Linked DNA regions of Homo sapiens: region 1 is linked to region 2. The links come from fine-mapping of genetic effects on gene expression. A gene starts in region 2. The other region holds a variant in brackets. All regions are shown on one strand. Distances are between the middles of the regions.

Region 1 (8,000 bases), 31 kb after region 2:
AAAAAAAAAAAAGAGGTGCGGAAGCCTTTCCTCACGGATCACACAAATGGTAGGCGACAGCTCGAATTGGCCCAGAAGCTGTGGTTGGCTGGCCATGGGACCGAGAGTTGAGGCCAGGGTCGGGAAAGCCACGTCCGTGTGGCCGTGGCCTTCTCTCCTCTGCAGCACCCCATCGCTGCCGTGGGCAGAGCAGCCGTGTTGGCCTTCAGAGGCGCTGCACGGGACCCCGGCTCCCCTGACCACCCTCTCCATTACCGCAGCTCTGGCCAGGCTGCCGCACCTCTACAGGAACTTTGCCGCGGAGCAGTATGCCAGTGTGTTCGCCATCTCCCTGCCGTACACCAACCCCTCCAAGTGAGTGGTCGCCCCAGGCCCTGTGCCTCCCAGCCGTGGCCCCCGCTAGGCCTTGCGGCAGAAAGCCCCGGCAGCCTTTGTCCCCAAGGCCTGAGCGCCTCGGTTTTTTGCACTTCATGCCCTGGGGATGTTTCCCTGCTGCCAGGATGGAGTGCCAGCCCCCTTCTCATCTCAGGTTTAATCAGTACATCGTGTGTCTGGCCCATCACGTCATAGCCATGTGGTTCATCAGGTGCCGCCTGCCCTTCCGGAAGGATTTTGTCCCTTTCATCACTAAGGTGGGCTCAGGGCCGGTGAAGGCTGTGTCTCTCGGTAGGCCAGGGCTTGCTTTGCCCTTGGCTGTCCATGGTCGGGCAGAGTGACAGGCAGGTGGAGGGCAGTGGGAGGGTGTTTGGGGCTGTGCCTGTGGCGCTGGGGGCTCTGCTGGGCAGCCTGCAGGGCTTTGATGCGCGGCAGGCATTGAGGGGTGGGAGCTGGGTGCCGCCGCCTTGCCCCTAGCCTGCAGCTTGTCCCTGGCCAGGGGGCACCCGGCAGGCCTGGTGAGGGCCTCCAGCCCCCATTGCCACCCCTCACTGTCTGGGTGTGCTCACTCTGCCAGGGCCTGCGGTCCAATGTCCTCTTGTCTTTTGATGACACCCCCGAGAAGGACAGCTTCAGGGCCCGGAGTACTAGTCTCAACGAGAGACCCAAGAGGTACGGCCTGCGGGGGTGTGCCTGGAGTCGGTGTGGGGTGGGGAAGGACATGGGGCTGTGGCCTGCCTGACGGTGCCTCCAAGTCAGTGAGTGGAAATGGGTCCTGTGTGCCCTGGAGTATGTGAGGCAGGGCAGGACCTGCAAGGGCCGCTAACACCCCTCAGCCCCTCAGCAGGTTGGCCGTGGTGGCCTGGGTCCGGGCTGCGTGTGCCACGGGCACCTACTTGTGGAATTGGGGGTTGGGGTGCAAGCTTTAGGCGCCTGAGCCCCTCGAAGGAGCCGGCCTTGTCTGGGGCTGCCCCCTCCTCTGCAGCCCCCAGCCTGCTGCTAGCCGGGGACTCTGCTTCATCACCGCCGCCTTGCCGGACCGCAAAGAGCTGAGCCAGCCTCTGTGTTCTTGTTTGCATTTCATTTGAACGGCTTTCTCCTCCTGTCCCCCACCTTCCTGCCCGAGCTATTTTGGCTTTCCCTAGATGGGAATACGGCATTTTCCAGCGTGACCTCAACTCGGAAGCTGTTGTCTCCAGCCCCTGGGGGCCGGGGGCCAAGCTCGGCCATTACGGCCAGAGACTACTTTCTGGGGTCTTGGTCTCTTTTCCTAGTGACCTTCAGGGCCTGGCCACTGAGGCCTCAGTGCCGCCTCGGTCAGAGCTGGGCGGTGCCTGCCTTCCGCGGGTGGGTGGGATTGCCTGGCCAGCACAGCCTGGAATCTGCCGTGGGGGTGACCCACACACGTTTAATTTGCACTGACGTTGTTTGTTTTGGTGTCATGCGTGAAGCCTTACTTGTTCTCAGTCATGTTTACCAGACGTATTATCATGCATTTTTGTTTTCTGTCTCTTCCCCGCTAACTGCCCTTTGGCATGGCTCTTTTTGCTCATCTCACCCGCGGGATCTCTCCATCCTGACCCTGTGGCCTGGGACCTTTCCTCCTCACCCCTCCACTGGCTTGTTCTCCCCTTCCCGGGAGCTGGGCTCTCTGGGGCGTTGGGGCTCCTTCCTCACCCGATAGTCTGAGGATAGCCAGACCCCCCAAACAAGGCTTGAATAACTCTCCACCCGTGAAAGAATTCAAGGAGAGCTCTGCAGCCGAGGCCTTCCGGTGCCGCAGCATCAGTGTGTCTGAACATGTGGTCCGCAGGTAGCGGGACTGTCGGGTGGGGGGCACGGACCCTGGAGCTTGGCCCCGTGAGCACCTGGGTGGCAGTGCATGGGGCTGCTTGCATGACCTCATCGTCTGCCCGTGTCCTCCCTGGCCAGCCCAGGGGGAGCCGGTGACGAGGGGTGGAAAGGTTGCATTCTGTCCCCAGGCCCCGTATGAGCACGGGCTGGTTGCACGCATCCCCAGGCCCCCTCGGGGTGCCGCTCCGAGAGAGCCAGGCGTGCCGGGCAGCAGCCTCCCCAGGCTGTCCCCAAGGGCCGCAGTGTGGGTTGGGGGAGACACCACTCCTGGTTTTGGCCTTTTCGTATTCTCTAGAATGGACGTTTTTCTTCGGGCTTTCTTCTCAACAAGGTTTATTTTTTGTTGTAGCTGAAAGGGAACAAGGGGCATTTGTGGAGGGTGCTGGGGTGGGGCAGCCTGGGAGGGCCTGGGTGGGGGCTAGGATCCTGCAGGGCATGGGCATGGGCCTGGGCCCCAGGCCATGGTCTTAGTTCTCCCCGCAGTGTCTGGGTGCAGGTGTGGGCTCTCGGGCTCTCGGCTGTCACCTGCCTGTGGGTCATCGCTGCTGGCACTGGCAGAGGGGATACCTGTCTCCTCCTGGAAGCCCGTTGCAGGCCAAGGGGTCCCATGGCCCTCAGTCCATCCACCTCCTCACCTCAGGCCGGCCTCTGCTGGGTGGGACTTGGCCAGGGGTTGGGGTGGTAGAGGTGCTCGGTGAGGCTTAAAGCCATTTTCTAGCACATTCTGTATCATGAGCAAAATATTGCCTAGGGGCTATGAAATTTGTATCAGAATGAACTCCCATAAGCCTCTTCCCTGTCACTGGGTGTGGAGCTCAGGCAGCCGCTCGCCTGCCTGAGGGTGA[C/G]GGTGGAAGGCCACATGGGGATCCCAGACCTCTGTGTGCTTGCCGGAGGCAGCCTGCGGGCAGAATGCAATCTGGGCCTGTCTGTGTGGCCTCCGCCTCTCTGCATGACTACACCGTTTCGCCAGGAGGCCGTAACCTAGTGCTCCCGTGGGCTTCGGTGAGGGGGATGTCGGTCTCTAGCCTCCTGAGTCTGCTCCGACCAGTAGGCCTGGTCTTCCCCACCCAGCGTCTCCCCGTTCTCTGGGACAATGTGGTCCACGTGATTCTCAAGCTGAGGCTCGCTGGGCCGCCCACGCCCTGTTGGGGTCTTTCCGAGCGAGGTCCTCAGCCGTGCATGCGTTGAGCTTTGGCCCTTGGTGATAGGTGGCTCGGCCCGCCCTACCTGGCACCCTGACCCTGGTCACGGCCTCTCCCTCCAGCAGGATACAGACGTCCCTCACCAGTGCCAGCTTGGGGTCTGCAGATGAGAACTCCGTGGCCCAGGCTGACGATAGCCTGAAAAACCTCCACCTGGAGCTCACGGAAACCTGTCTGGACATGATGGCTCGATACGTCTTCTCCAACTTCACGGCTGTCCCGAAGAGGTCCAGGCGGCACTACAGGGCTGGGCGGGCCTGCGGGAGCTCCACGGGCAAGCTGGGTTTCACGCTCCCTGTCTTCTAGGTCTCCTGTGGGCGAGTTCCTCCTAGCGGGTGGCAGGACCAAAACCTGGCTGGTTGGGAACAAGCTTGTCACTGTGACGACAAGCGTGGGAACCGGGACCCGGTCGTTACTAGGCCTGGACTCGGGGGAGCTGCAGTCCGGCCCGGAGTCGAGGTGACTGCACCTTCCTTTCCTCCGCGCCTGCCAGCCTCGACACCGGCTGTCCCGAGCCCAGGCCCACGTGGCACCCTCGTACCAGCCTGGGGACTAAGTCCACCCTGTGCGTGGGATTCTCTTCTCAGCTCCAGCCCCGGGGTGCATGTGAGACAGACCAAGGAGGCGCCGGCCAAGCTGGAGTCCCAGGCTGGGCAGCAGGTGTCCCGTGGGGCCCGGGATCGGGTCCGTTCCATGTCGGGTGAGCCTTGGCCCCAGCCACCTCCACACAGGCACCGGGGCTCCCTCAGTTGCTGCTGGTCCCAGTGTTCAGGAAGGCCCCGAGCCCAGGGGCCGGGGTGGCTGGCTTCAGGCCCGGCCCACGTCCTGACTCTGGGGTGAGCCTTCCACAGCTCACCCCAGAGCCGTGGAGTGGTGGAGTGTGGCCCGCTTGCTGCAGAGGGGCCTGCTCTGGGTGCTGGTGTTTCCTGCGGGTTTTCAGCTCGGCTCAGTCCTGGAGCCCTTCTCTGCTCCAGCGAGCCGTGGTCTGACTGCAGGACAGGTTCTGGGTCCCTCCCTGTGGCCCTGGGTTCACTGAGGCCAGCACTGTGGTGGGCCGTGCCCCAAGGGCAGAGCTGCCACCGTCTCTGGCTGCCTGTGGCACTAGCTTGCCAGGCTCGGGGGGAGCATTCAGCTTGAGGCTGGTGGTTTTGCATCAGGTAAGTGGTGGTCACCAGTCCTCTGCCCTCTTCTTCAGGGGGCCATGGTCTTCGAGTTGGCGCCCTGGACGTGCCGGCCTCCCAGTTCCTGGGCAGTGCCACTTCTCCAGGACCACGGACTGCACCAGCCGCGAAACCTGAGAAGGCCTCAGCTGGCACCCGGGTTCCTGTGCAGGAGAAGACGAACCTGGCGGCCTATGTGCCCCTGCTGACCCAGGGCTGGGCGGAGATCCTGGTCCGGAGGCCCACAGGTACTGGGCGGGGCTGGCCTGAGCGCCATCTTTCTGCCAGTCACCCACAGAGCTGTGGACACTCAGGGGCGATTGCAGACTTGGCCCTCTTGGGATATTTGGGGGTAACTTTTGTTTTTTTTTTGAGACAGAGTCTTGCTCTGTGGCCCACGCTGGAACGCAGTGGCGCAATCTCGGCTCACTGCAAGCTCCACCTCCCGGGTTCACGCCATTCTCCTGCCTCAGCCTCCCGAGTAGCTGGGACCACAGGCGCCCGCCACCACGCCTGGCCAATTTTTTTGTATTTCTAGTAGAGATGGGGTTTCACTGTGTTAGCCAGGATGGTCTCAATCTCCTGACCTCGTGATCCGCCCGCCTTGGCCTCCCAAAGTGCTGGGATTACAGGCGTGAGCCACCGCGCCCAGCCATTTGGGGGTAACTTGTAAGTCTCCAGAGGTGAGCTGTGAGGGGCGATCCAGGTGGCTGAGGTGGGGCAGGGGCCTGTGGCGAACCAAGTGACTTCCATGGCAGAGAGTTGCCCTCCCCGCCTGGAGGCTGCAAGTCCGAGACCAAGGTGCTCCTCGGCAGGAGGTGCTCCTCAGAGGCCTCAATCCTTGGCATGCAGTTGGTTTTTTCCCTGTGTCCTCACAGGCTCTTTCCTGGATGTCTGCGTGTTAATCTCCTCTTGGGAGGAAACCGGTCATGGCTTAGGGTCCGCTCTGGTCCCTTGCTAGCCGTAATTAGCTTTCTGAAACCCAGTCTCCAGAGACAGTCCCGTTCTGAGTTCCTGGGGTTGGGACTAAAGCATACCAACATGGGGGCACAGCTCAGCCTGTTCCCAGGGGCAGAGGGAGCCCCCGCAGAGGCCCAGAGCCCAGGGACAGAGGGAGGCCTTTGCAGAGGCCCAGAGCCCAGGGGCGCCTGGGTGTGCCGTGGCTGAGGGGTGCAAAGAGTAGGGGTTCCAGCCCTCGTGGAGGCCTTGGGTCCGGACTGTGAGGCTGTGGGCTGGAGGCCGCTGCTCTGAGGTGCCTGGCGGAGCCTGGCCTCGAGGCAGGGGCTGAGCGGGGCAGCAGGGTGGGTGGCCGTCAGAGCAGCGCTGGCTCCGACATCGTGGTCCTGAGGATTGTGGGAGGGAGCATGAGGGCAAAACCAGGGCCCAGGCCAGGAGGCCCCTGGGGGGCCAGAGATGGGTAAGGGGAGGTACTGGCCTCAGGCCAAAGGTGCTGCCGCCTCCGCAGGGAACACCAGCTGGCTGATGAGCCTGGAGAACCCGCTCAGCCCTTTCTCCTCGGACATCAACAACATGCCCCTGCAGGAGCTGTCTAACGCCCTCATGGCGGCTGAGCGCTTCAAGGAGCACCGGGACACAGCCCTGTACAAGTCACTGTCGGTGCCGGCAGCCAGCACGGCCAAACCCCCTCCTCTGCCTCGCTCCAACACAGGTGAGTGGCATGGCGGGCCTTGGCACGGGCTCTGCTCCCACTGGCCTGGTGCTCCCGGTGACGGCAATGTGGCTCCTCTCTGCTGAGGGCGCCCACACGGCTGGGAGTGGTCCCTGGCCTGCCTCAGCACCATTGTTCTCCGGTGTTTGGGAGGAGGCTGACCCGTGGGAGGTGTCTGCCCTGCTCAGGAAGCTGGGGCTGGCAGCTTCAGAAGCAGTAGGGGCCCTGTGGAGCCTCTGCCCAGCATCCTCCGTGGGGAGTCCAGCACTGCGGGCTCCAGGAGGCTCTGCGGCAGCCTCCCTCCCTGCCTGGGCCCAGGTTTGGACACCTGAGCCCGCCTGCGCACTCTGGGCCCCCACCCCACTCGGCACCGTGCTTCTCGCCAGGCCCTCTGGCTCTTCCCTGTGGCTGCAGATGGCACTTAGCGGCCTAGGACGTCTATTCACGGGAGGAGGGAGGCACTGCCCTCCTCAGGTCTGCCCAAGCAGCTTGTAGCTAGCACTGGGCCCCGTGCGCGCCCCTGCCGGCCGCTGGCCCTGCCCTCTCTCCTCTGCAGGCACGGGGCCTGTGCTCTCTGCTCGACCTGTGTGTAGCCCCTCCTCCTGCTGACGTGGCCGCACACGGCCTTCCCTTGCAGTGGCCTCTTTCTCCTCCCTGTACCAGTCCAGCTGCCAAGGACAGCTGCACAGGAGCGTTTCCTGGGCAGGTATCGCCTCTCAGAGGGAAGCGGTTGGCTGCAGAGCGCCACTCTGCCTCATAGGTGCTGTGCTCGTCGCCTCATCCGCCCACCCCCATGGTCCGTCTGCCTCCATTGCCCTGGGGAGCAGGTCCCGACTCGCATGAGGACGTCTGTGCAGAATGTCTTTGGCTTGGCCAGCGGGATCCCCTTGACTTGGTCCCTTTGTGGCTGAGCCCTGTTCCCACGCTGTGCGAGCACTCCCGGCCCAGCTTCAGGCCTGAGGGGTGGGGGTGGCCTGAGTCTCCATGGTGACATCAGCTGAGCTGCAGACTCTGATGGGTGGCAGCTGTTTAGGGGGAAGCCCACCCCTGGGCCTGCACCGAGCGGGCCTTGCCCTGGCCTTTGGTGGCTCCCCTGGCCTCTGGAACCCACAGATGGGGCTGCCTCAAGTCCCAGGTTGACCAGGGGCCCTGCAGACCGACCTCTGCCTGTTGCCCCCAAGCCCTGGTGGGGAGTGCTGTGACCTGCATGGTGCTCCCCTGCCAGGTCTCCACGTGCAGACGAGCTGGTTTGGAAGGGCTGCGTGGGACGGGCCCTGGGGTGGCTGACTGCGCGTGTGCAGGGCTGTGGGGCGCCCGGGGGCTGTGATGGTCCCCTCTGTTGCTGCTTCTACTTCCTCTCCCCCTGTCCTGACGCTGGCACAGGAAATGCTGCTTTGGGACCTCCCACCCTCTCTCCTTAGCGTCCCCAGCTGTGGGTCTGGCTTGGAGTTGGAGGGTGAGCCTCTGCTCTTGGGAGCAGTCTGTTTGCAAACAGGGACTTCCCCCACGTCACGGAGTCTCCGCAGCTCTCCTCGGTTACGAGGGCTGGTTTCAGGCTCCCGCTCTTTTAGAGCTGAGGCCCGTCGGGCGGAGAGCGTCTTGCCCCTGCCTACCTGGAGGCACAGGGGTGGCTGCTGGTGGACACTAGGGTGGGCAGAGCCGATTGCCTGCCCAACCCCCGGGCACTCATGCAGGAGAGGCCTGTGTCGGGGTCACGTGCAGGCCTTCCCAGCGTCCTCC
Region 2 (8,000 bases):
AGGGCTCACCCTCCAGAAACCGACGGGGTAGATGAGCTTGCCCAGCGTGGCATCATCTGTCTGCAGGATGCTGTCCACCGTCAGGCCCCGCGCCCGCAGTCGCTGCATGGCGCCCGCCGTCACCTGGTCTTTGGTTTGGCTGGAGAGCATCAGTGACAGCAGCACCTGGTACCTGCGTACCTGCTTGTGCAGTGACAGGGACCGGGGTGGCGGCGGGTCCTGGGTGATTCCCTGGCCAGGCTCCGCCCCCCGCCCTCGACACACCCTGGTTTGTTGCCCTGGGCCACACTTGAGGCATCAGCCTCCCCCTGTGGGGTGGGGAGGTCTGGTTTGGGTATGTTTGGTCATCTACAACACCAGGACAATAATAGTACCTGACTCACTGGAGTAATGTGAAGCTTAAATGAATTATCTCAGTGCTTAGAATCGTATGTGGCCGGGCGTGGTGGCTCGCACCCGTCATCCCAGCACTTCGGGAGGCCAAGGCAGGCGGATCACCTGAAGTCAGGAGTTTGAGACCAGCCTGATCAACGTGGTGAAACCCCGTCTCTACTAAAAATACAAACATTAGCTGGGTGCGGTGGTGCATGCCTGTAATCCCAGCTACTCGGGAGGCCGAGGCAGGAGAATAATTTGAACCTCGGAGGCGAAGGTTGCAGTGAGCTAAGATTTCACCACTGCACTCCAGCCTGGGCAACAAGAGCAAGACTTGGTCTCAAAAAAAAACCCAACACGATCGTATCTGGCCCATCACTACTGAACAGCCATTGGCCACTACTATTATGATTGCTTCGTGAATCATCACACTACCCTTTAAAACAAATTTTTTTTTTTGAGATGCAGTATCACTCTTTCACCCAGGCTGAAGTGTGGTGGTGCCATCTTGGCTCACTGCAACCTCCGCCTCCGGGGTTCAAGCGATTTTCCTGCCTCGCCCTCCTAAGTAGCTGGGGTTACAGGTGCCTGCCACCACACCTGGCTAATTTTTGTATTTTTAGTAGAGACGTGGTTTCGCCACATTGGCCAGGCTGGTCTCGAACTCCTGACCTCAGGTGATCCACCCGCCTTGGCCTCCCGAAGTGCTGGGATTACAGGCCTGAACCACCATGCCTGGCCCATACTACCCATTTTACAGACAAGCAAACTGAGGCTCAGAGAGGCCTGTATCCAAGCCACCTGGTAGCAGAATAGGGATTAGAACTCAGCTTGGTCTAAGGGTTTCAGGCCCTGGGACCGTGAAGCAAAAGGAACTCTTCCTTCCTGATATCACACAAAGCCCAGGTCACGCCTGCACTGGGCAGAAGTTCGAGCACGAGGCCCTAAACCACTGGTGTCCTGACCTGCTGAGTGGCTACAGTGATGCAGGCGATGCTCTGGGGCACCGGGTGTCCATCCTCCCAAGGTGCTGTCTGCAGGGGAGGGTGCCAGCCAAAAGCCACCGGGTAGAAAGAAAACAAGGACCTTGCTAAGATGGGGGGTCATCTGGGCAGATGGGGCCCCTGCCTACCTTTGGGGGGGCACTGGAGTCATAGCAGTGCTCAGTCCCCAGATGGTCCACAGGTGCATCCTTTTTGTTCCTCATGGCACGGATGTTGACCAGCTGTTGCTGCCAGTCCTGGGGCTCCCAGACTGGCACCTTGAGGGGCTCAGCCCCCTCACCTTTCTCACTGTCCGAGCCCTCATAGGCCACACGCAGTCTCTGTGCTTTCCGCGGACGCTTCACGGGGCTGTGGCTTTTCCTCGCTTCTGCAAAAAGCACCACGCAGTCCCTCTGGTGGGGCCACAGGTGAAGGTAGGGTAGGGGTGCCATCCCGCCTGCTAGCTCACCCCTCACTCGTTCATGCCACAACTGTCCATCATCTAATACACTTGGGGTGCTCTGCCCTCTGCAGTCTGGGGTATGTGGGCCCTCCTTATGCCAGCGACCCTGACAAGGTCCATGTTAGCTCATGAGGACTCTAGCAACAGCCTGTACCAAGGTGCCCCCAATACATCTTCTATACTGCACCAGAGACAGTCTGCTAACACCCACATCAGGTTGTGTCACTCCCTTTTAAAAAATCCTGGCCGGCCGGGCGCGGTGGATCAAGCCTGTAATCCCAGCACTTTGGGAGGCCGAGGTGGGTGGATCACTTGAGGTCAGGAGTTCAAGACCAGCCTGGCCAATATGGCAAAACCCCATCTCTACTAAAAATACAAAAGTTAGCCGGGTGTGGTGGCAGGGGCCTATAGTCTCAGCTACTTGGGAGGCTGAGGCAGGAGAACTGCTTGAACCTGGGGGGCGGAGGTTGCAGTGAGCTGAGATCACAACACTCCACTACAGCCTGGGTGACAGAGCAAGACCCGATCTCAAAACAAACAACAAAACCTCCTAATTGACTTCCGTTTACTGTCATAATAAACTCCAAACTCTATCCTGGCATCAAAGCTCCTGCCACCCTGGCTGGCATCACCACCTGCCTGCTCCCAGCTGCACCAGTTCCTCCTGACATAGTCTGGACTACCCCTGGGGTCCCTGGGTGCCTATGGGAATCCAGCTCTGGCCAATTCTGCAGAAGTCCCAGCGGGACTAGCGCAGAGGCCCTGTCCGTGTCCCTCACTGCTCACTGCAGTGCTTGGCCCCCAGCAGGTCCTCAACGGCTGCAGGATAAATATAATAAGTGCCATGCCCTTTCCTGTTTTCCCTCAGAGGCACCCTCCCCCGAGCTGGGGGAGCAGGCTTCTGGCTGCGTGTGTCCTTGGCACCCAGCCTCTCCGAGGACAGCAAGTTCACTGCAGGAGGGCGGGGATGGGACCCACAGAGCCTGGAGTGGAGAGTCCCGGACAGAGTGGTGGGAAAGGAAGCGTTTTCTTGCTTGGGGCGAAAGGGGGCAGCGGAGCGGAGCGCCCGAAACCCAGCCCCTGCGGACCGCAATCTTTGGGAAAAAGGCGCAAGGTGGGAACGCAGGGCCGCACGTGGGAACCGTTCGCGGCTGCCGGGTTTGCAGCCCCTGCCCGCGCAGCTGGGAGCCGCAGGAGGCGGCCCGGGACTCCAGCCTGCAGCCCCTATCCCGCCTCCTCCCACGCTCCAGCCACGGCGCGGCGCTACCTGCTGCAGCCTCTCTTCTCCGGAGAGGCCCGGGCTCCTCCCTACACCCCCGCGGCCCAGCCCCGGGTCCCAGGCTCCGGCTCCGGGTCAGCATCCTCGCGCTCAAGGCGGTCATGCCGGACTCCTGCGGACTACACATCCCGGCGGCCCATGCGGCCCCGTCACGTGATGCAAGGATCGCCGGCCTTTCCGCCAGAGGGCGGCACAGAACTACAACTCCCAGCAAGCTCCCAAGGCGGCCCTCCGCGCAATGCCGCTACCGGAAGTGCGGGTCGCGCTTCCGGCGGCGTCCCGGGGCCAGGGGGGTGCGCCTTTCTCCGCGTCGGGGCGGCCCGGAGCGCGGTGGCGCGGCGCGGGGTAAGTGGCGGTCCCCACGGGGCAAGTGGCGGTCCCCACGGGGCAGCGGCCTAGAGAGGCGGACCCCGCAGTGTCCGGGTCCCGGGCCCTCACCCGCGCCCACTGCAACCCGACTCCGGAGCTCCGAGCATCCCTTAGTTTTAAGTCATGGCGGGTGCGAACGGGTCTCTGCTGCAGGCGGCTCCGTGACAGCTCCTGCTTCACATGGGTAGAGGAGAGACGGCAAACGTCGGGGCTCCCAGGACTTCGCGGCGGCAGTCCTAACCCGTGCACTGAGTCGGGCGGGGCGGGCGGCAGCGTCTGAGTAGAGAGCTCTCTAGACCAGGCCTGGTGTCTCCCGGGCTTTCCTAGGTGCCTGTTTGCGAGCTGGTCAGCTGGGCTGTAGTTGAGTTCTCCCAGGGAGTGTGGGAGGAAAGGTTATGCCCACCAGAGACCCAGGGTCCTGACGGCTGGAGGTCCGCAGTGGGGAAGGTGGGCAGAGGTGTTGCTCAGATGTCCCCATTCCTGTTTCGTTTGCACAGAGGGGTTTTCTGGTGCGTCCTGGTCCACCATGGCCAAACCAACAAGCAAAGATTCAGGCTTGAAGGAGAAGTTTAAGATTCTGTTGGGACTGGGAACACCGAGGCCAAATCCCAGGTCTGCAGAGGGTAAACAGACGGAGTTTATCATCACCGCGGAAATACTGAGAGTGAGTGAGCTACCTGTGTCTTTGCTAGGCTAGAGGGAAATGCAGAGAAGGCTGGGTTTGGTCTTGCACCAGGTTCTGTGGGAGACGGGTTGCTGGCAACTGTCTACACAGGAATGCTGTCTCCAGTACTTGGAGGCCGACATGTCCTTCCTCAGGAGACTTCGAAAGTCAGGATCTTGGTGACCTGGTTCAGGCACACTTGAGTTACTATTCAGATGTTGATGAAAGAAAGCCCATCTTATAGATGAGGCCTGAGTATCATCATCTTCACAGGTAAGGATATGTCCAGGTGTTACATGATAAGATGTGAGTTCCTGGGAGAAGTAGGTTCTTTATTTTATTTTTTTTTTGAGACTGAGTCTTGCTCTGTTGCCTAGGCTGGAGTGCAGTGGCACAATCTCTGCTCGCTGCTACCTCTGCCTCCCAGTTTCAAGTGGTTCTCCTGCCTCAGCCTCCTGAGTAGCTGGGACTACAGACACGTGCCACCACACCCATTTAATTTTTGTATTTTTAGTAGAGATGGAGTTTCACTATCTTGGCCAGGCTGGTCTTGAACTGCTGACCTCAGGTGATCTGCCCGCTTTGGCCTCCCAAAGTGCTGGGATTACAGGCATGAGCCATCGCACATGGGCTAGGTCGTTATCTTTTATGTGTGTTTGTGTCTTTGTCACACATGCCTGGCATTGTGTTTTGCCCATGAGTAAATGCTGAATTTTTGCACTTGTAAAGTTTTCTACTTAGAAACAACTAAAACGTTCATCAACTGATGAATAAAATATAGTCCATCCTGGCTGGGTGCGGTGGCTCACGCCTGTCATCCCAGCACTTTGGGAGGCCGAGGCGGGTGGATCACCTGAGGTCAGGAGTTTGAGACCAGCCTGGCCAACATGGCGAAACCCCGTCTCTACTAAAAATACCAAAAATTAGCCGGTCATAGTGGTGGGCGCCTGTAATTCCAGCTACTCGGGGGGCTGAGACGAGAATTGCTTGAACCCGGGAGGCGGAGGTTTCAGTGAGCCGTGATCGCGCCACTGCACTCCATCCTGGGGAAGAAGAGCAAAACTCCGTCTAAAAAAAAATTGTGCAGTTTGAAATTGTATTTCATGTTATGTTTTATCTCAATACAACATTTGCAGTTGTGAAAAAAAATTGCACATTCTCAACTCCTCGGGATGGAGCAGTAAAGCCCCTCAGTAAATCTTTTTTTTTTTTTTTTTTTGAGACCGAGTTTCGCTCTTGTCACCCAGGCTGGAGCGCAGGGGCGCGATCTCGGCTCACTGCAATCTCCGCCTCCTGGGTTCAAGGGATTCTCCTGCCTCACTCTCCCGAGTAGCTGGGATTATAGACGCCCACCACCACGCCCAGCAAATTTTTTGTATTTTTAGTAGAGACAGGGTTTCATCATGTTGGGCAGGCTGGTCTCAAACTCCTGACCTCTGGTGATCCACCTGCCTTGGCCCCCCAAAGTGCAGGGATTACAGGCCTGAGCCACCGCGGCTCGTCAAGTGAATCTTGATTCCAGAAAGATCTGTTTTAAGTCTCTAGTCTGGAAAATGCAGTGGGAGTCTTTAGGTGGTTTGTGACTTGCAGTTAAGGAGACCGTGGCCTGAGCACTGGCCCCTTTTTCTTCTTTCATCTCTCTCCAGGAACTGAGCATGGAATGTGGCCTCAACAATCGCATCCGGATGATAGGGCAGATTTGTGAAGTCGCAAAAACCAAGAAATTTGAAGAGGTAGGTTTATCCAGTTGAGCTACTAGAGAGAGGCACGTAGACTATTCAGAGCCTGAGTTTGCTTTTTTTAGGAACATGGTTGACAGCTGACTGCCGATGATCTGGTTTGCACTTTTTTTTTTTTTTTTTTTTTGAGATGGAGTCTTGCTCTGTCGCCCAGGCTGGCACAATCTTGGCTCACTGCAGCCTCTGCCTCCTGGGTTCAAGCAGTTCTCCTGCCTCAGCCTCCTGAGTAGCTGGGATTACAGGCACGCGCCACCACACCCGGCTTTTTGTATTTTTAGTAGAGACGGGGTTTCGCCATGTTGGCCAGGCTGGTCTTGAACTCCTGACCTCGTGAACCATATGCCTCAGCCTCCCAAAGTGCTGGGATTACAGGCGTGAGCCACTGCGCCCAGCCAGTTTGCACTGTTTTAGGGGAATTTAGCTTTCATCGTAGTGATGGGGAAGCTACTGGAAATGCCCCGAATACAACCTTGAGGGACCAATCAAGCGTGGAAATGGGGAGCAAAGGGATTAGGCTTTTCTAGCAACACCAGAAAGGATTTCTATGCCGAGCGGGGGTGCGGGGGCTTATGCCTGTAATCCTAGGACTTTGGGAGGCCGAGGTGGGTGGATCACGAGGTCAGGAGTTCAAGACCACTCTGGCCAACATGGCGAAACCCCGTCTGTACTAAAAGATGATGAGCCGGGCATGGTGGCACATGCCTGTAATCCCAGCTACTTGGGAGGCTGAGGCAGGAGAATCGCTTGAACCCGGGAGGCACAGGTTGCAGTGAGCCGAGATCGCCCCACTGCACTCCAGTCTGGGTGACGGAGCAAGACTCTGTCTCAAAAAAAAAAAAAAGGAAGAGTTTGTAGTGGCTGATAGAAACGCATGCTCACTCGCTCTCTCCTGTTACAAGTTCAGGCCAAGAAAAATCAAGAAAGGGTTTGTTCCACAGAGAACAATCCTAGGCACGCTGGTCTTGGTGCCATTTTGGGAGGGTGACTGGTCGGTGGTATTGGGCGACCTCACGGACATAGAAATATTTATTTTGGGCAAACATTGCCAGACTTTCCTGATGACTTGTGGACAGGACAGGAAGTGGTCATTTTGGGAGTGCAGGTTGCTGGTAGAGCACCTGAGGGCTCTGCCCTTGCCTTGCCCAGCATTTGTGTGTGGGAGAGCAGTGAGACCTGGACCTCTCATGCTCAGATCTGCTAAGAGGAGAGTGATTGCTACCTCTGCAGCAGCTCATCTGAAACGTGCTGGCCGTACGCTACCAAAGATAGGTGTAAAGAACAGGTGTCCTTAGCCGGGCGCAGTGGTTCACGCCTGTAATCCCAGCACTTTGGGAGGCCAAGGTGGATGGATCACCTGAGGTGAGGAGTTCGAGACCCGCCTGGCCAATGTGGCAAAACCCTGTTTCTACTAAAGATACAAAAATTAGCTGGGCATGGTGTCGGGCACCTGTAATCCCAGCTACTTGGGAGGCTGAGGGAGGAGAATCGCTTAAACTCAGGAGGCAGAGGTTGTGGTGAGCTGAGATTGTGCCATTGCACTGCAGCCTGGGCAACAGAGCAAGACTGTCTCAGAAAACAAAAAAAAGAACAAGCGTCCTGCATCCTGTTCTGAAAGTTGTTTGTGTGGGTACGGGGCAGCCTGTGAGTGGATAAATAGGCCTCCGAGGCTGGGATGGTCCCGGGCCCTGTGTCCACGGATCTTTGCAGCTCAGGTTGCAACGGTAAGAGTATTGTCAATGAGACAAAGGAGGTGAGAGTGCCAGTTGTCTGAATTGGTTGGGATGTTGGTCAGATGACATCTAAAAGAACACGGCCATTTTGTTATTATTTGGTTAGAGACAAGGTCTCACTCTGTCACCCAGGCCGGGGTGCAGTGTCACAATCATGGCTCACTACAGCCTCAACCTGCCAGGCTCACGTGATCCTCCTACTTTAGCCTCTCAAGTAGCTGGGACTACAGGCATGCAGCACCACGCCTGGCTAAGTTTTGTATTTTTTGTCGTGACAGGGTCTCACTGTGTTGCCCAGGCTAGTCTGAAACTCCTGGGCTGACGTGACCCTCTCCCCTCTGCCACCCGAAGTGCTGAGATTACAGGTGTGAGCCACCGCACTTGGCCAGAACACGGCC

The links.
Region 1: its variant is fine-mapped to the expression of TSC2 in tibial nerve (GTEx, PIP above 0.99).

Annotation. Positions count from the first base shown.
Region 1 is chr16:2,075,539-2,083,538 of GRCh38, forward strand. TSC2 (TSC complex subunit 2) reads left to right here. Exons shown (of 42, transcript NM_000548.5): 23 at 261-354; 24 at 530-632; 25 at 953-1,047; 26 at 2,060-2,188; 27 at 3,494-3,658; 28 at 3,738-3,890; 29 at 4,019-4,131; 30 at 4,627-4,839; 31 at 6,057-6,260; 32 at 6,898-6,966. Among named protein-coding and RNA genes, the nearest start is that of MIR1225, 11 kb to the right of the region's middle. RefSeq lists an enhancer at 2,884-3,593. The variant C/G (reference allele first, on the strand shown) is at 3,075.
Region 2 is chr16:2,044,621-2,052,620 of GRCh38, forward strand. It overlaps TSC2 (TSC complex subunit 2), which reads left to right and starts at 3,365. Exons shown (of 42, transcript NM_000548.5): 1 at 3,365-3,445; 2 at 3,967-4,133; 3 at 5,780-5,866. The coding sequence starts at 3,996. It overlaps NTHL1 (nth like DNA glycosylase 1), which reads right to left and starts at 3,214. Exons shown (of 6, transcript NM_002528.7): 1 at 3,089-3,214; 2 at 1,508-1,746; 3 at 10-180. The coding sequence starts at 3,203. RefSeq lists enhancers at 2,618-3,117, 2,709-2,768, 3,219-3,308 and a silencer at 3,399-3,628.